Homo sapiens: one gene and its partners. The protein of the gene in region 1 purifies or fractionates together with the protein of each later gene. This does not show direct contact. Each region holds a gene or a part of one and is shown in the gene's direction. Other genes may lie near its edges.

Region 1 (5,422 bases):
AGTATAAGAAGCCATTCAAGAATGGATTTGGAACAGTGAGAAGAACAAGCAACTTTGGCTACAATGATAAAGATCAATGATCAGGGATAGTGCTGCAAATGGGAAAGAATTAGGAAGAGAATAAAAATAGGACAGATATATAAGATACTGTCTTTATTAAAAAAAAAACTATGATGACAGATTGCGTGTATTTGGAAAGCAATGAGAGTAAGTTGGAAAATTGTTCTTTCTTGGAATGCCTCAGAGTTGATGGTATTACTAGGCATAGGAAAAAGTTCACAGAAAATATGAAGAACTGTTTTCTGCATTTTTTTTTCTTTAAAGTTTTAATGTAGAATGGCCAGTCCGATATACCATATATGCCTAAATTAAAACTCCGTCTCAAATTACTACCTCTCAGAAGAGTATTACTTTATATTTGAGTCCTTACAAAAGTCTCACATATGAGGCAGAATTTCTGTCAGTTCTTTTATTTTTAATGGTAACTATTTGGAAAGACACACTAGCCTAAGTGACTTCAGTGAGAGCTTTTTGAATATTTATAAAAGTCACCTGGTGAAATTGGTTTTTAAAAAAGAAGCAAAGAGATTTTATATAGATTTAGCAATTATTCCTAGGGGTAAGACTTCACAGAAGTGTTGGATGAAGTTGTAAATAAGCCTTTCGAAAATTAATTTAATAAGCAATATAGCAATTGGGTACTATATACATGATACTGTTTTAGAGATCATTAGATGGTGAAGGAGTACTCTTGGCTGGGGATAAAATGTTCAGGGACAGCATCTAACATGGATTCAAAGAGTAACATATTTTGGCTACTCAATGAGAAATTTAGATTTAATGTGCATTGGTAATGAATAACCATTATATGAGCAGAAGAGTTTTTGAGCAGAGGAATTATGTAATAAAAGCACCACTTTGGGAATATTTATCTGGTGCTGTTGGAAAGGGAGGAAGAGACAAGAGTTAGACATACAGACTAGTAGAATAATCCAACTGCATGATCATGTAGACCAGGGCTGCTTAATCTGAGCACTATTGACATTTGGGGCAAGCTAATACTTTGTTGGAAGCTGTGCATTGTAGAATGTTTTGTAGCATCCCTGGCTTCTAACCACTGGATGACCCCTCCATTTGTGACAACCAAAAATACCCTCTAGACATTGCTAAATGTTGGGGCATTAATTGGGAGTAAGAAGGCAAAATTGCCCAGAGTAAGAACCACTGACGTGCATCTAAACTAAATCAGTATCCTAGAAATTCAATTATAATGTATAATATGAAATTTCAACAGTGATTTTTTTCTTTGTATCTTCTTACATTGTCTGAAGCCTTTATTATCCATTTATTTTATGGTTTTTAAAAAAGGGCAGCTGACTGGGCACAGTGGCTCACGCTTGTAATCCCAGCACTTTCAGAGGCTGAGGCAGACAGATCACTTGAGCCAAGGAGTTCAAGACCAACAAATAAAATAAAATAAAGACAGCTTTTTTGACAAAAACAAGAACACAAAATGTATAAAAAATTTAACAAAAACAAGTAAACAAATTTTTTGTAATAAGCTTTCTCTAACAAAAAATTTATAATGATTACAGGCCGGGCGCGGTGCCTCACGCCTGTAATCCCAGCACTTTGGGGGGCTGAGGCAGGCGGATCACGAGGTCAGGAGATCGAGACCATCCTGGCCAACAGGGTGAAACCATTCCTTCTCTACTAAAAATACAAAAAAAATTAGCCGGGCATGGTGGCAGGCACCTGTAGTCCCAGCTACTCAGGAGGCTGAGGCAGGAGAATGGCGTGAACCCAGGAGGTGGAGCTTGCAGTGAGCCGAGATCGCGCCACTGCACTCCAGCCTGGGTGACAGAGTGAGACTCTGTCTCAAAAAAAAAGAGAAAAATTTATAGTGATTACATTTAAGTCTAAGTACAACTTATAGAGGTTTGTTTATATTTTAAATAATATTTTATATTTAAGAATAGCTAGCTGGTAAGGAATTTTGCAACTTTAAGCTGTTGGTTTATTTATCTTTTAAATTAGTGCACCTGGGGACTAACCCATTAATCAGTCAGATTTCTCTTAAACATTTTTTAGGGGAGAGGGAGAGGAGCGTTGTTCTTTTTGGCTTCATAACTTTCTTTTAGCAGCATTTCGTTCATCTGGCTTTAATTTGTAGAACTCTAGCGGTAATGCACTGGGTGTTCTTTTAAGGGAAGGCCCACACCATCAGTTGGGCAGAGGTGCTGATTTTAGCCCTGTTCATCATCAGCTACTAATCTGTAGTGCCTTAGAGAATAATCTGTTCTTCCCCCCAATCCCGGCACAAGAGACACTGTTAGTCAGGAACTTAGAATTGATTGAGCAAAGCGGGATGGAAGCAGTATGTGAGATTCTCGAGATGGCAAGTTTTTTCTGATGCTCTTAAGAACTGGTGATAAGGGAATGATGTTCTGAGCAAAGCTTGATTTTAAGTCAGAAATGGATACAACTCTTGAATATGATACCTTTTTTCCTTCTTTTTTCCCCCCGCCCTTGCCTCTTATTTCTTTAATTTTAAAAGGACAGAAAAAATTTCAAAGCTCTAGGACTTTTTGACTTTAGTATATGTGTGTGAAATTTTCCTAGTGGTCCATAGTAGTAAAATAGCTGGTAAATCATTTGAGTCTTTTGTGGCTTATATATTGCAAAATAAGCAGTTGTAGCAGGTATGCTGGGGAGATGTTATGCAACAGAAACTACATATTTATTGAATTTCTTTATATTAAGAGATTGGCAAGGAAAAGGTTTTCCAAGTGCTTAATGTATGATAGTATACTAGGAGCATTATAAATGGATCATTTCATTTAATCCACAAAACAACTCCAATAAATAAACTCCATTTATCAGATGAAGAGATTGAGGCTGAGAAAAGTTGAGTATTTCCCACAAAGTCCCACTACTGGAAGTGCTGGCACACAAATTTGAGCACGTCTCCAAACATCAAATCTTTGGTATCTTCATTCTACTCACCATTTTCTTTCACTTACAGCAAAATTAAACATGTAGGTTCTTAGGAAATCCCAGATTTCATAAAGGAGTAATTTGGTGGTAATTATTTGCATAATAAAATAATTCTTCTATTTATCACAGAGTTTCTTTCAATAGAGACTCCCAGAGATTCTTTATTATTAGATATACATCTAGGAATACAAAGAAACTTAATGCTAAGACTAACGTACAAGAGTGTCAACAGTGGAAGACTGCTAGAAATTAAAGATCATTTGCTTATTCATTCAACATATAAGCACCTGCTTTAAAAGCACATAATGGATACTGGGAGTATAATAATGAGCAAAAACAGACGTAGCCCCTACCTTGTGGAGTTTGTAATATAGTAAGGAAAACATCACTCAAATACTCTCCTAAATTAATACAGAATTATAGCAGTGGGAAGTATTACAAAGGAAAGGTACTTGGTGCAATTAGAGTGTATAATAATGGTGCCTAATCTCATCTTTTTCCTTGTATCTAGATAGGAATGGTAAAATTAGACATCTTTGAGACTTTATAAAATTTAAGCTATATAAACAAAGGTTAAACAAGAGGCTCTGGAGATCCCAAACTAAGTTCATTACTGTTCTTTCTTGAGGAAATAGAAAGGGCTAAGTCATTTACTACTTTTATTTTTAAAATTATAATTAATATACTCATTGCAGAATTATTAAACATTTACTTGTTTGTTCAACAAAATTTGTTGAGCCTTTACTGTATCTAAGGCATATTAATCACTTAATATAATTTAGATGTACTGGTACAATGTTAGCTAGTGATCAGTAACCAGATTTTACTGGTTTCCGTTGTAACCTTTTTAAATCATTCAACAAATTATAAGCTGGTGTATGTGCTAAAAATAAAAAATAACGCTTGTATCATGATCAGGTGTGAGATATCTCAAAAGTAGTTTATTACTAAAAATGATTTGACATTACCTAGTAAAGATGAACATATGCATATTCAACAACCCAGTAATTTTATTCCTAAATATATATCCTAATTTGGAGAGATTCTTTTTTGTGTTTTTTTGATGGGAGTCTTGCTCCTATTGCACTCCAGCAGCTATTCACAGGTATGATCATAGCCTTGAACTCCTGGACTCAAGCAGTCTTCCCAGCTCAGCCTTCTGAGTCGCTGGGACTAAAGGCTCACACCACCGTGATAGGCTGGAGAGATTCTTAAATATATACCCCAGGAGATGAATCTAAGACTGTTGCAGCATTGTTATAATTGGAAAAACAAAACAAAACAAAAAAACACCCTAGAAATAACCCAAATGTCCACATGCTGTAAAATAGATAAAATACATTTTGGATTTTGATATGTTTATACAATGGAAATATTATTTATTCAGCAATGAAAACAAATGAACTCTAGCTACACACATCAAGAATGAATTTTCAAAACATTGGATTTCAAAAGCAAATCGTAGCAGAATGTATACAATATGATTGTATTTATTTAAAGTTCAAAAACAGGAAAAAGTAAATGTTATACTGCTTAGAGATGATATGTACAAATGTATAAAATTGTGAAGAAAACCAAGAGAAAGGTCAAGAAAATTCAGTGTGGTGGTTTCCTCTTTGGGGCAGGGAGAGGTTTTGGTATCAACAAGGAACACACAGGGAGTTTCAGAGATATTTTATTTCTTAAGCTGGGTGGTGAGTACATGGGCCTAAATGTCTTTGGTTATTGTTACTTAAAATGTCCTTCTATCTCATATATACTTTAGGTTATATGTTTTGTAATTCTAAAAGAGAAAACATATATTCAAAAAATTAAAAGTTATTCCTATGATAACTTTACTCATTTGCATTCCAATATGCTTCCTGGAGTGGATGAGAATTGAGTGGCATTAAAGGTAATAGATAGGGAAGTTTTTGTGGGAGGATGACATACATTTTAATATCTCTGTCATGTATATCACATAAAGTGGTTGAGAACCACTGCTGCTAAAAGTCTGTAGTTTAGTAGGGTTGGCAGTCCTGTTAACAAATAACCATGTTATGAGTGCTCTACTAGAAGAGGTATCTTAAAAAAGAAATGGCTTGACATCAGCCAGGAAAGCTTTATGGGGCAGATGTTATTTAAGCTGGATCTTTAGGGACGAGCAGTTTATAAGGGGAGACTGGTGAGGGGAGCCCACATTGCCCAATGGAGGAAAAGGGTGTACAAAGGCACAGAAGCCTAAAAGTCCATAGAGAGTTGAGTGAGGAAATTCAGATATGTTAGGAGCCATACTGTGAAGAGCCTTGCCCGGCACACTCTGGAGTTTGCTCTGTGGGCATTGGGGTTTTATCACTTAAATTAGGGATATTAATTTCAGTATTTGATGTAAGGCTGTGTGCTAGTAGTTACCTTGAAAGTCTGTATGTATGTATATTTATGTTCT
Region 2 (4,132 bases), on another chromosome or scaffold:
AACACTGAAGAAAGTAAAAAGTACATTTCAGTGTGAACATTTTGTCTGAAGGTTATTCTTGCTGTTTCTGTTGGTTGGGGTTCCACAGAGAGAAACCTGACAGTCACAAGAGGTCCTATAAATTCCAAAGGTCTAGACCACGGTAACTATGAGTTTGTTGGACCAAGAAATTATCAGGGCCTCTAGCAGAAATTTAGGTTACTTGGAGAGAAGAAAATGATTGTCTCATTTGTTTATTTTTTGTAAAGCTGGTTTGGTTTTACAAGTAAGTATGAGGTATACAGAGATAATGTTGAATGGTTAAGGTTGTAAAGAAGGTTATGTTAGGACTGGAGCAGTAGGTTTAATGAATAAATCATTGATGGGAGAATTTTCTAAGTTAATTAGTACAAGTGGCAGTGGGAGAGATTTAGTTTTCTATGGATAGGTAGGATGCTAAAATTATAGTTATCCTGCAACAGCATAAAATTTTCTTAAACTACATACAATTTTTAAAGGCTACTTACAAAAAAACTCACTTATTTCCAAATGTTTTCTTTCCTTCAAAATATATAGCTTTTGGATAAAGTATACCTTCATAAAAGATAAATACACGATAAATAAGTTACTTGTATTTATATGAACTTTTACAATTTTAAAAAGTATTATAAGGACTTTATGTACATTGATACTGACAGTACAAATGTTTGACTATATTTTGAAGGAAAAATGCAATTTGGCATTTGTTTTATGTCTTTTCTTGTGATATATTTTGTTCCCCTTATTTAGATAACTCGGGAACTGTTAACCAAATTATGATGATGGCAAACAACCCAGAGGACTGGTTGAGTTTGTTGCTCAAACTAGAGAAAAACAGTGTTCCGCTAAGTGATGCTCTTTTAAATAAATTGATTGGTCGTTACAGTCAAGCAATTGAAGCGCTTCCCCCAGATAAATATGGCCAAAATGAGAGTTTTGCTAGAATTCAAGTGAGATTTGCTGAATTAAAAGCGTAAGTATTAGCATTTTAACTATGTTCAACTATGTTACATAATATGTAACTACACTGCAAAGAGAGAAAATAAAAAACATGGCAGTATTGTGAGAAAATATTAATTTTTTTACCAAATACTTTTGCTTATAGTTAACAAGAGACTAATGTAAACTCTTTTCTATGCACGTTTCCACAACAGTTTACTTATTTTAAACTGCCTAAAAAGATTTTTTTAAAATAACTTATTAGTATTTAATTTTACCCACAGAAAAAAGCAATATCCCATGTTTTTTGGAAAATTGAATGAAGCATTATCAAATTTAAGTAGCTATGTTCTTTTTCTTAAATTTTGACTCAAATCTTTTATTACAGTATTCAAGAGCCAGATGATGCACGTGACTACTTTCAAATGGCCAGAGCAAACTGCAAGAAATTTGCTTTTGTTCATATATCTTTTGCACAATTTGAACTGTCACAAGGTAATCTGAAAATGTCAAATTCAAATTTTAAGTAAAGGATAACTTATTACAACTTACTTCCTAATATTAAATCATATATATGAAGTGGAAATTTGAGGCAAAAGACATTAAAGTTGATCAGATGAGAATATGGGGAGAAAATGCCACCTAAATGTAAATGCAGAGAATATCTGTTATACTAGCTTTTCCATGTATAAAGAGTAATCCAGGGAAATGAGCATGAACATTGTGTATGTGCTACTAGTTAGATTCAGGAAACATCTAAAGGAAAGTAGCTGCTTCACTGAGTATTTGTAGGAAGAAGGATATCAGATATTTAAGCTAGAGCTTTAAATATCTAGAGCTTACATAAACTTTTCTTATGCTATGGTTTCATAGCACCAAAATGTACATTAAAGTGTAGCTATGTAACTTGGTGGTCAAGTAAACTATATATCTGTGTGTGTGTGTGTGTGTGTGTGTGTGTGTGTGTGTGTAGCGTTAATTGGTAGTTCTTTAAAATAAAAAAGTAAACTGCTGTAGAAACTATTTCTTGCTCACTTGGTTCTTCATAGTCTGGATTTTTTTGGGTAGGACCAAGACAATCTCTTCCTAAGACATTTTTAACCTGGCCATTCCTTAGTCTTTTCTCATTTTCCAGGGCCTTTGGATACACCCTCAGTCTGCCCTCTGGCCAGGTGTTTCCATTCTCCCACTGCCTTGTTTCTGCTACAACTGTGATCCAATTTACTGCCAGTGATAAACATATTAACACTATTGGAAGAATCCCCATGATGGTTTCCATAGCAGGGATTGGTCACTGGAGAGTATTCCCCAGGATTGAGCCTGGAGAAAATAATTATATGACTCAGAAATAATTTGAGAACCCTGAATTGTTACCCATTCAGATGATTTCTGAGTCCTAGTAATTGTCTTCTCCAATATGTCCTTTGCTCTATCAGGTTACTTTTTAGAACTATTATCCCTTTCTTCTCTAGAAAAATGGATTCCTCCTTGCTTGTTAGAGAAAATTTGGCAAGGCTTCTTTCTCTCCATTCTGCTTGAAAATTTCTTGAGGTATTGTGGCCTCTCAATAACAACCATAAATTTTACATGTTTAGAACATGTAAATATTGAAACTCTTAAATTGAGTTATCTGTAAAAAAGACGAACTTTATCTATACCACTTTATCTGCAATGTGGTAGTAATGCACAGTGATGCAATGTGGTCAAATGCATTGCACAGTAATGCAGTGTGGTCAAATTATGATTATTTTGAGCACAGTTGATGGCTTGGCTGTCAGGAAATAATGCAGCATCCCTGAAGTCCTATGCAGAGTCTGGTGTGTGAGTATTTTTATAGGGATGGAGGACATTTCAGTTTTTACCAGATTCTTAAAGAAATCTCTGATCTCAATACTAAGCTATCTGATTAATTAAGCTTCTTAAGCCTTTCTCTCTTTTCTTGTGCTAAAATACACAATACATGAAATTCTACCACTACTTAGTAAATGTAGATGTAAGCACTATCAAAGATATTTTTAAAAATTTATAAACTACCAGAAGCTAGAGATCATCTCTTAAGCATTTTTATACGCTAAGTACCAAGTGCATAGCATAGCTCAATGGCTCCCATAAATGTTGATAATATTCTGTAAGATATGTGATGTATACATTTAATATTTATATGTCAAATGCTAGGGGTAAGTTTACCAATTTTTTTGGTAATCTGTCCATACTCAGAAAGGTAATTATGATAGTTCCTCAGTTATTCTGCATTCTTTTTCAGGCTGGTATAGCTGAGTGTGACAGCTAAAGATTAATCTGTATTTATTATGTTTTTCCCCGAAAATCCTTTTGATGGAAGATGCTCTTTAACAAAAGATGTCATCCTTCCCTTAACTAAATGTCATTATGAATGATACTTATTATAGCATGTTGTAAGAGACTGATGCTCTTGGCACTTTTGTAACATCTAGAATGCCCTCCTGTTTCTAACTGTTGTGATTGGCCTTTGCTGTCCCCTGTTGGTAACTGCTTTGTTACACTTCTGTTACTTCTGAAAGTGGACAGTGGTGATAAACTAATGCAAAATTACGTCAGCTACATATTGCAAGGAAACTATTTGGTATGCATTGTTATCAGAAGAGAGTTGGTTATCTGCATAAAAAGTGAGAGATTGCTTACTTGCCTATGAAATAAAATACATGAGCCTTGGAATAAATATTTTTGCTTAAGTCTTTTTGATTTTTTTTTCTAGGTCCTGATGAATACGTATCTGGGTGGTCTGGGTGGTGGGCATTTTACTGCCTAAAAATGACAATTATCTTTTGCTTTGTTAGGTAATGTCAAAAAAAGTAAACAACTTCTTCAAAAAGCTGTAGAACGTGGAGCAGTACCACTAGAAATGCTGGAAATTGCCCTGCGGAATTTAAACCTCCAAAAAAAGCAGCTGCTTTCAGAGGAGGAAAAGAAGAATTTATCAGGTAACTATTAAGGTATACTAATACTTTCTGTGGTAGGTAGTACTTCAAATAAAGATTCGGGATAATAATTTATAGAAAAATATTATTTATGTAGAATGGTTAAAATCTAAGATTAAATTGTAAAGGAGGTAAGACTGAGAAGTAAAAAAGTCTCTACAACCCCATGCAAATTTGTCTTTTTTGCTAACTAAACTTTCGTTAACACATGAAAAACA
Region 3 (4,132 bases), on another chromosome or scaffold:
TCAAACATTCTTTCCCAATGAGGCCTTCTGTAGTTATATGAACATTTGAGCCTCCACCACTGCGCAGACTGCCTTCCTGGCTCCGTCCTCTGCTTTATTTTTCTTCTCAGCATGAGTCACCATCCTTGTAGTGCAGCTCTCTTGCCCACCACACCCCACCCCTAGACATAAGCTCCATGCAGACTGGGGACTTGTCTGTTTTGCTCTCCCTCCCCAGCCTAGTGCTCAGCACATAGTAGGCACTTGAAGTAGATTTGTTTAGTTTTGTTTTTGTTTTTTATCTTTAGCGATGGGGTATCTCCATGTTGCTCAGGCCCATCTTGAACCCCTGGGCTCAAGTGATCCTCCCACCTTAGCCTCCCAAAGTGCTGGGATTACAGGCGTGAGCCACTGCACCCGGCTTAGTTATGGAATAAATGAAGACTTGTCTTGCAGCTGTCATCTCTGAGTGCATTATGACCCTTTGCCCCCAGATCCTTTACAACCGCACCATGGTGCAGCTGGGCATCTGTGCCTTCCGCCAAGGCCTGACCAAGGACGCACACAACGCCCTGCTGGACATCCAGTCGAGTGGCCGAGCCAAGGAGCTTCTGGGCCAGGGCCTGCTGCTGCGCAGCCTGCAGGAGCGCAACCAGGAGCAGGAGAAGGTGGAGCGGCGCCGTCAGGTCCCCTTCCACCTGCACATCAACCTGGAGCTGCTGGAGTGTGTCTACCTGGTGTCTGCCATGCTCCTGGAGATCCCCTACATGGCCGCCCATGAGAGCGATGCCCGCCGACGCATGATCAGCAAGCAGTTCCACCACCAGCTGCGCGTGGGCGAGCGACAGCCCCTGCTGGGTGAGTGTGGAGCTCCAGGGTTCAGCAGGCTGCCTTGCTCCCTGATTACACATAAGGATTAAGAGAAGTGAAGGGAGTAACTCTCCCACCACTCGACTCCATCTGATTTAATGACACCTCCTCTGCCTGGCACTGTGCTAAGTGTTTTACAAATAATTATTTAATCTGCATTAGTAATAACCCTATGCCGGTAGGTACTAGTAATACCCTTTTTCCCAGTGGAGAAACTGAGGCACAGAGTAGTTAAGTGACTTGCCCGAGTTTAATGCAGCTCATGTGTACCTCTGATCTTTCTTTCCCTTTTCTTCCCTTCATGTACATTATATTCCAGCCAAACCAACTATCATAGAGCCTTATCGTTCAAGAGGCTAACGTTGATTCCTTTGGCCCCTTTTGAAAGACAGATCCTGCAGGGTTGCAGTGAGTGGTGACTCACTGGAAAGGAATTGAGCTGCGCCCTTCCTGTGACATTGGCCCACAGGAGGGCTTGACGAGTGAGCTGAGCCCAGTGTCCACAGCCACATCCCCCTACAGATTTGTCCTCTCCTGGTCATGTATATGTTTGGGCTAAAGGGCAAGTTCCCTTAGGCACATTTTGTTTGGCTTATGTAGTGAGATTTACTTTGTGGGGAAATTTCCCATGAAAATCGGAATTTTCATGTCTTAGAATATTGGCAGTCTGTCGCTCCTGGCCCTGCCTTCCTGCAGAGCTAGCCTTGGCTGGAGCTGAAGTAGCAGCGATGGGAAAGGGCTGTCTGCTTCTCCACAGTCCCTGCCTCTCAATTTCTCCCTACAGTGGTTCCAAAAGCCAGTTTCCATCAGCCCTGCACTGTTGTTCGGCCTATAGAGAAATATTCTTTGAGCCCCTAAACTTGCCTTTTTCTTTCTTTCTTTCTTTTTTTTTTTTTTTTGAGACGGAGCCTCACTGTTGCCCAGACTGGAGTGCAGTGGCGCAGTCTCAGCTCACTGCAACCTCCACCTCCTGGGTTCAAGTGATTCTGCTGCCTCAGCCTCTCGAGTAGCTGAGACTACAGGCCCCCGCCACCATGTCCAGCTAATTTTTTGTATTTTTAGTAGAGATGGGGTTTCTTCATGTTGGCCAGGCTGGTCTCGAATTCCTGACCTCAGGTGGCCCGCCCACCTCGGCTTCCCAAAGTGCTGGGATTACAGGTGTGAGCCACTGCGCCCAGACCAACCTTGCCTTTTGCAAGTGTTAATATGGTTAAAATGGAGGTTCATCCAGGAGGGCTGTGTGCCTCTCCTTACACTCTTAACACTTAGCCCTGCTCCTATGGTTCCATTTGGACCTGATCCCCGTTCGCATTGAGCTTGCCGTTCTTGCTGTGGAGTCTGCGTGTTTGTGTTTCACTGTCTGCCACCCATTTCTAGCCGTAGAACTTTTGCACTTTGTCTACCCTGAATTCCAGTTACTATGGCGTACCATGTCTTACCTTCCTGGCTTGTCTTAGGATTGTATTTGGGGGCCTGAGTTCATAATTAATATATAAACTTGTGATTTTAGAGATAATTTTGACCGGGGCTAAGTTTTTTAAGGAAAAGAAGTGAGCTGCTTGGAAGAATAATAAGCTGGCAACAGTGTAATTGATGCATGGGCATGGCACCATTCATGAAGGTGATGTGAGTGAGGAAGGGTTGGTAAATTCCATTCCAGTTGAGCTGGAAGAGGTGGTTTTGTTTTGTTTTGTTTTGTTTTTTGAGACAGAGTCTCGCTCTGTAGCCCAGGCTGGAGTGCAGTGGCAAGATCTCAGCTCACTGCAAATTCTGCCTCCCGGGTTCAAGCAATTTTCCTGCCTCAGCCTCCCGAGTAGTTGGGATTACAGGCGTGTGCCACTATGCCTGGCTAATTTTTGTATTTTTAGTAGAGACGAGGTTTTGCCATGCTGGCCAGGCTGGTCTCCAACTCCTGACCTCAGATGATCCGTCTGCCTTGGCCTCCCAAAGTGCTGGGATTATTACAGGTGTGAGCCACCACGCCTGGCTGGAAGAGGTGTTTTTAGGTCAAGGAAGCTTACGAGAATCTGATGAAAGCCATGGGCCTTTTTCCTAGGAAGAATGTACATGAGGACATGTGCACAATTTGTCAACATTTTTGAGGGTTTCGGCAGTCCCCTGAAGTGCATCTATGGACTGATTGAGTTCAAACATTTGTGCAGATGGAGTGGCTTGGGCGACTACGTGGCTGTTTGGTGGAGAGGCGGGGAGAGTCTCTAGTATGGTTTGCTCCTCCAGCCTCTGTTCCTCCTTAAAGAGTGCTAATGGAACTTGTCCCAAGTTCCCTAGGCCCTGCCTCATTCCCACCCTTTCAGGTCCCCCTGAGTCCATGCGGGAACATGTGGTCGCTGCCTCCAAGGCCATGAAGATGGGTGACTGGAAGACCTGTCACAGTTTTATCATCAATGAGAAGATGAATGGGAAAGTGTGGGACCTTTTCCCCGAGGCTGACAAAGTCCGCACCATGCTGGTTAGGTGAGCAGACAGAGAGGCCGTGATGGGTCGGGGAAGAAGAGACTGGTTGGTCCCCTTCCCTGAGGCCCTGTTGTGTCTTCTGTCCCCTCTTCCCACAGGAAGATCCAGGAAGAGTCACTGAGGACCTACCTCTTCACCTACAGCAGTGTCTATGACTCCATCAGGTAGGCGGGGCCCTGGGGACACAGAAGGGCCCCAGCCTTGTGGGCAAGTGTCCTGACTGCCCCTGCCCTCTGCCTTCTTTCTTCCCAGCATGGAGACGCTGTCAGACATGTTTGAGCTGGATCTGCCCACTGTGCACTCCATCATCAGCAAAATGATCATTAATGAGGAGCTGATGGTAGGGGCCGGGGTGGGAAGCGGGCAGGTGGAGCCATGGAGGGATTGGAGCGTAGGGGCCGGGGTGGGAAGCGGGCAGGTGGAGCCATGGAGGGATTGGAGCAGAGGGGCCTGATCTGTGTCGTGTCCCCTCCTCTGCCTTGGCGCCTGTCAGGCCTCCCTGGACCAGCCAACACAGACAGTGGTGATGCACCGCACTGAGCCCACTGCCCAGCAGAACCTGGCTCTGCAGCTGGCCGAGAAGCTGGGCAGCCTGGTGGAGAACAACGAACGGGTGTTTGACCACAAGCAGGGCACCTACGGGGGCTACTTCCGAGGTGAGTACTTCGGCTCCTCTCCTTGCCCACTCCTGGTGCCCTCACCGCCTCTCACCTGGCATTCCCTGCCCTTCCTTCCCATCTCTCTCCTACAGACCAGAAGGACGGCTACCGCAAAAACGAGGGCTACATGCGCCGCGGTGGCTACCGCC
Region 4 (3,627 bases), on another chromosome or scaffold:
CTCGTGCCTCAGCCTCCCGAGTAGCTGGGATTACAGGTGCATGCCACCACGCCCGGCTAATTTTGTATTTTTAGTAGAGACAAGGTTTCACCATGTTGGTCAGGCTGGTCTCGAACTTCTGACCTCAGGTGATCTGCCTGCCTTGGCCTCCCAAAGTGCTGGATTACAGGCGTGAGCCACCGCACCCAGCCCCCTGTGAGAGCTCTTTGTTGTTAAAATAATCTTCTTTCTTTTATGCTGAAGATATTTTTCTACTTCTATTGTTTATCTCTTTACTTTCCTTTCTTTTCTTTTCTGAGACAGGATCTTGCTATGTTGCCTAGTCTGGAGTGCAGTGGTGTAATGAAGGCTCACTACATCCTTGACCTCCCAGGCTCAAGTGATCTTCCCACCTCAGCCTCCCACCTGTAGCTGGAACTACAGGTGCATGCCACCACATCCAGCTAATTAAAAAAAATTTTTTTGTAGAGATGGGATCTCACTATGTTGCTCAGGCTGGTCTCAAACTGGCCTCAGTGTCTTGCAGTGCTGGGATTACAGGCATTGTTTGTTGTTTCTTAACTTTGTTTATGGTATCTCTTGCCACAGTAAAATTTTAAAGTTTTATGTAGTCAAATGTCTCTCTTCTCTTTTACAGTTTCTGGGTTTCCAGTCTTGGTTAAGAAGGTCACCCGCACCCTCAGATTGTATATGTAGTCTCCTAGATTCTCTTTCAGGATTTGTATGATTTTAAGGTTTTCATTTTTTTTTTAAAGCCAGTCAAATTTAGCAGTTGGGGGTTGTGTACCAACTTTAGTGACAATAATGTCACTACCCGCTACCATCAGAGCAGCCTAAGGTTCTTATTTTCATGCATTAAATCTTTGTATACAGTGTAAGACAAGCATGCAATTTTATTTCCTCTCGGATGAATGCTATTATAATTATGCCACTACATACTACATACCCGCATCTTTTACCCCCAGAATTGAACTACCAACTTCAACATACATCGTATTCTCATATTTAATAGATTTTAAGACTTCAAAACGACACAAAGAGGATCAGAACCCGTATGTGATATTTTTGTGCGTCCTGTCTGGTGACCGTTGGTTCACCTTATCTCTGTTTCCCTTTCAGGTGCTGCTAGCTGAGGAGGGGATAGCTCCTCTTTCTTCTGCAGGACCAGGGAAAGAGGAGAAACTCCTGTTTGGAGAAGGGTTTTCTCCTTTGCTTCCAGTTCAGACTATCAAGGAGGAAGAAATCCAGCCTGGGGAGGAAATGCCACACTTAGCGAGACCCATCAAAGTGGAGAGCCCTCCCTTGGAAGAGTGGCCCTCCCCGGCCCCATCTTTCAAAGAGGAATCATCTCACTCCTGGGAGGATTCGTCCCAATCTCCCACCCCAAGACCCAAGAAGTCCTACAGTGGGCTTAGGTCCCCAACCCGGTGTGTCTCGGAAATGCTTGTGATTCAACACAGGGAGAGGAGGGAGAGGAGCCGGTCTCGGAGAAAACAGCATCTACTGCCTCCCTGTGTGGATGAGCCGGAGCTGCTCTTCTCAGAGGGGCCCAGTACTTCCCGCTGGGCCGCAGAGCTCCCGTTCCCAGCAGACTCCTCTGACCCTGCCTCCCAGCTCAGCTACTCCCAGGAAGTGGGAGGACCTTTTAAGACACCCATTAAGGAAACGCTGCCCATCTCCTCCACCCCGAGCAAATCTGTCCTCCCCAGAACCCCTGAATCCTGGAGGCTCACGCCCCCAGCCAAAGTAGGGGGACTGGATTTCAGCCCAGTACAAACCTCCCAGGGTGCCTCTGACCCCTTGCCTGACCCCCTGGGGCTGATGGATCTCAGCACCACTCCCTTGCAAAGTGCTCCCCCCCTTGAATCACCGCAAAGGCTCCTCAGTTCAGAACCCTTAGACCTCATCTCCGTCCCCTTTGGCAACTCTTCTCCCTCAGATATAGACGTCCCCAAGCCAGGCTCCCCGGAGCCACAGGTTTCTGGCCTTGCAGCCAATCGTTCTCTGACAGAAGGCCTGGTCCTGGACACAATGAATGACAGCCTCAGCAAGATCCTGCTGGACATCAGCTTTCCTGGCCTGGACGAGGACCCACTGGGCCCTGACAACATCAACTGGTCCCAGTTTATTCCTGAGCTACAGTAGAGCCCTGCCCTTGCCCCTGTGCTCAAGCTGTCCACCATCCCGGGCACTCCAAGGCTCAGTGCACCCCAAGCCTCTGAGTGAGGACAGCAGGCAGGGACTGTTCTGCTCCTCATAGCTCCCTGCTGCCTGATTATGCAAAAGTAGCAGTCACACCCTAGCCACTGCTGGGACCTTGTGTTCCCCAAGAGTATCTGATTCCTCTGCTGTCCCTGCCAGGAGCTGAAGGGTGGGAACAACAAAGGCAATGGTGAAAAGAGATTAGGAACCCCCCAGCCTGTTTCCATTCTCTGCCCAGCAGTCTCTTACCTTCCCTGATCTTTGCAGGGTGGTCCGTGTAAATAGTATAAATTCTCCAAATTATCCTCTAATTATAAATGTAAGCTTATTTCCTTAGATCATTATCCAGAGACTGCCAGAAGGTGGGTAGGATGACCTGGGGTTTCAATTGACTTCTGTTCCTTGCTTTTAGTTTTGATAGAAGGGAAGACCTGCAGTGCACGGTTTCTTCCAGGCTGAGGTACCTGGATCTTGGGTTCTTCACTGCAGGGACCCAGACAAGTGGATCTGCTTGCCAGAGTCCTTTTTGCCCCTCCCTGCCACCTCCCCGTGTTTCCAAGTCAGCTTTCCTGCAAGAAGAAATCCTGGTTAAAAAAGTCTTTTGTATTGGGTCAGGAGTTGAATTTGGGGTGGGAGGATGGATGCAACTGAAGCAGAGTGTGGGTGCCCAGATGTGCGCTATTAGATGTTTCTCTGATAATGTCCCCAATCATACCAGGGAGACTGGCATTGACGAGAACTCAGGTGGAGGCTTGAGAAGGCCGAAAGGGCCCCTGACCTGCCTGGCTTCCTTAGCTTGCCCCTCAGCTTTGCAAAGAGCCACCCTAGGCCCCAGCTGACCGCATGGGTGTGAGCCAGCTTGAGAACACTAACTACTCAATAAAAGCGAAGGTGGACATGCTGGGCTCTGTGGTTTATTGGCGTCTGATTCCTAAGGCACCAGGAGAGGCTGGAAAAGAAAGAGGGTGTTGATGGAGACGATGGTGATAGGGAAGAGGCAAGGCCTGAAGTTCACCCAAAGCAGCAGTTGGAGCACTTGCACAGGCACACACTTGACAACACAAATTGCCAGTTTTCCCAGTGCTAGTCCTGCACAGCTCACCTCTTTTCCCTGGCGTCTCTGACCTTGTTCCTTGGGACCTTTGGACCTGCTGGTTAACTTAGGCCTTTTGAGGGTTCTTAATAAGACAAGCTCACGAGGGGTAGGGCCCCCTGAACATTAGGGCAGGAAGGGCCCAGTTACAGGTGCTTCATTCCCACTGCCATCCCCACCCTGAGGCCTGGGAGCCAGCCTGCCCTGCTTTTCTTCTGCCCGGCAGCAGCTCCTGTTACAGTTTTTTGCAGTCAGAACTTGAAGAAAGTGCTATCCCCTGCCTGTCTAACCTGAAAAGTAGCCAGGGGCCCAAGGGTCACAAGAGGCTCCAG

The links.
Region 2: the proteins of CDC27 (region 1) and TTK purify together in Homo sapiens (affinity purification with western blotting; 3 studies listed by BioGRID). This does not show direct contact.
Region 3: the proteins of CDC27 (region 1) and EIF3C fractionate together in Homo sapiens (co-fractionation; one large-scale study listed by BioGRID). This does not show direct contact.
Region 4: the proteins of CDC27 (region 1) and FOXM1 purify together in Homo sapiens (affinity purification with western blotting; 2 studies listed by BioGRID, with this or other methods). This does not show direct contact.

Annotation. Positions count from the first base shown.
Region 1 is NC_000017.11:47,181,655-47,187,076, reverse strand, and holds part of CDC27 (cell division cycle protein 27 homolog), read left to right. Parts: intron 1-5,422. UniProt on the Homo sapiens protein: Component of the anaphase promoting complex/cyclosome (APC/C), a cell cycle-regulated E3 ubiquitin ligase that controls progression through mitosis and the G1 phase of the cell cycle.
Region 2 is NC_000006.12:80,007,041-80,011,172, forward strand, and holds part of TTK (dual specificity protein kinase TTK), read left to right. Parts: intron 1-768; coding exon 769-991; intron 992-1,345; coding exon 1,346-1,452; intron 1,453-3,773; coding exon 3,774-3,917; intron 3,918-4,132.
Region 3 is NC_000016.10:28,731,356-28,735,487, forward strand, and holds part of EIF3C (eukaryotic translation initiation factor 3 subunit C), read left to right. Parts: intron 1-473; coding exon 474-837; intron 838-3,164; coding exon 3,165-3,324; intron 3,325-3,422; coding exon 3,423-3,488; intron 3,489-3,576; coding exon 3,577-3,664; coding exon of another isoform or gene 3,665-3,691; intron 3,692-3,742; coding exon of another isoform or gene 3,743-3,778; exon of another isoform or gene 3,779-3,809; intron 3,810-3,817; coding exon 3,818-3,980; intron 3,981-4,075; coding exon 4,076-4,132. UniProt on the Homo sapiens protein: Component of the eukaryotic translation initiation factor 3 (eIF-3) complex, which is required for several steps in the initiation of protein synthesis.
Region 4 is NC_000012.12:2,857,156-2,860,782, reverse strand, and holds the end of FOXM1 (forkhead box protein M1), read left to right. Parts: intron 1-991; exon of another isoform or gene 992-1,119; coding exon 1,120-2,145; 3' UTR 2,146-3,103; downstream 3,104-3,627. UniProt on the Homo sapiens protein: Transcription factor regulating the expression of cell cycle genes essential for DNA replication and mitosis. Plays a role in the control of cell proliferation. Also plays a role in DNA break repair, participating in the DNA damage checkpoint response.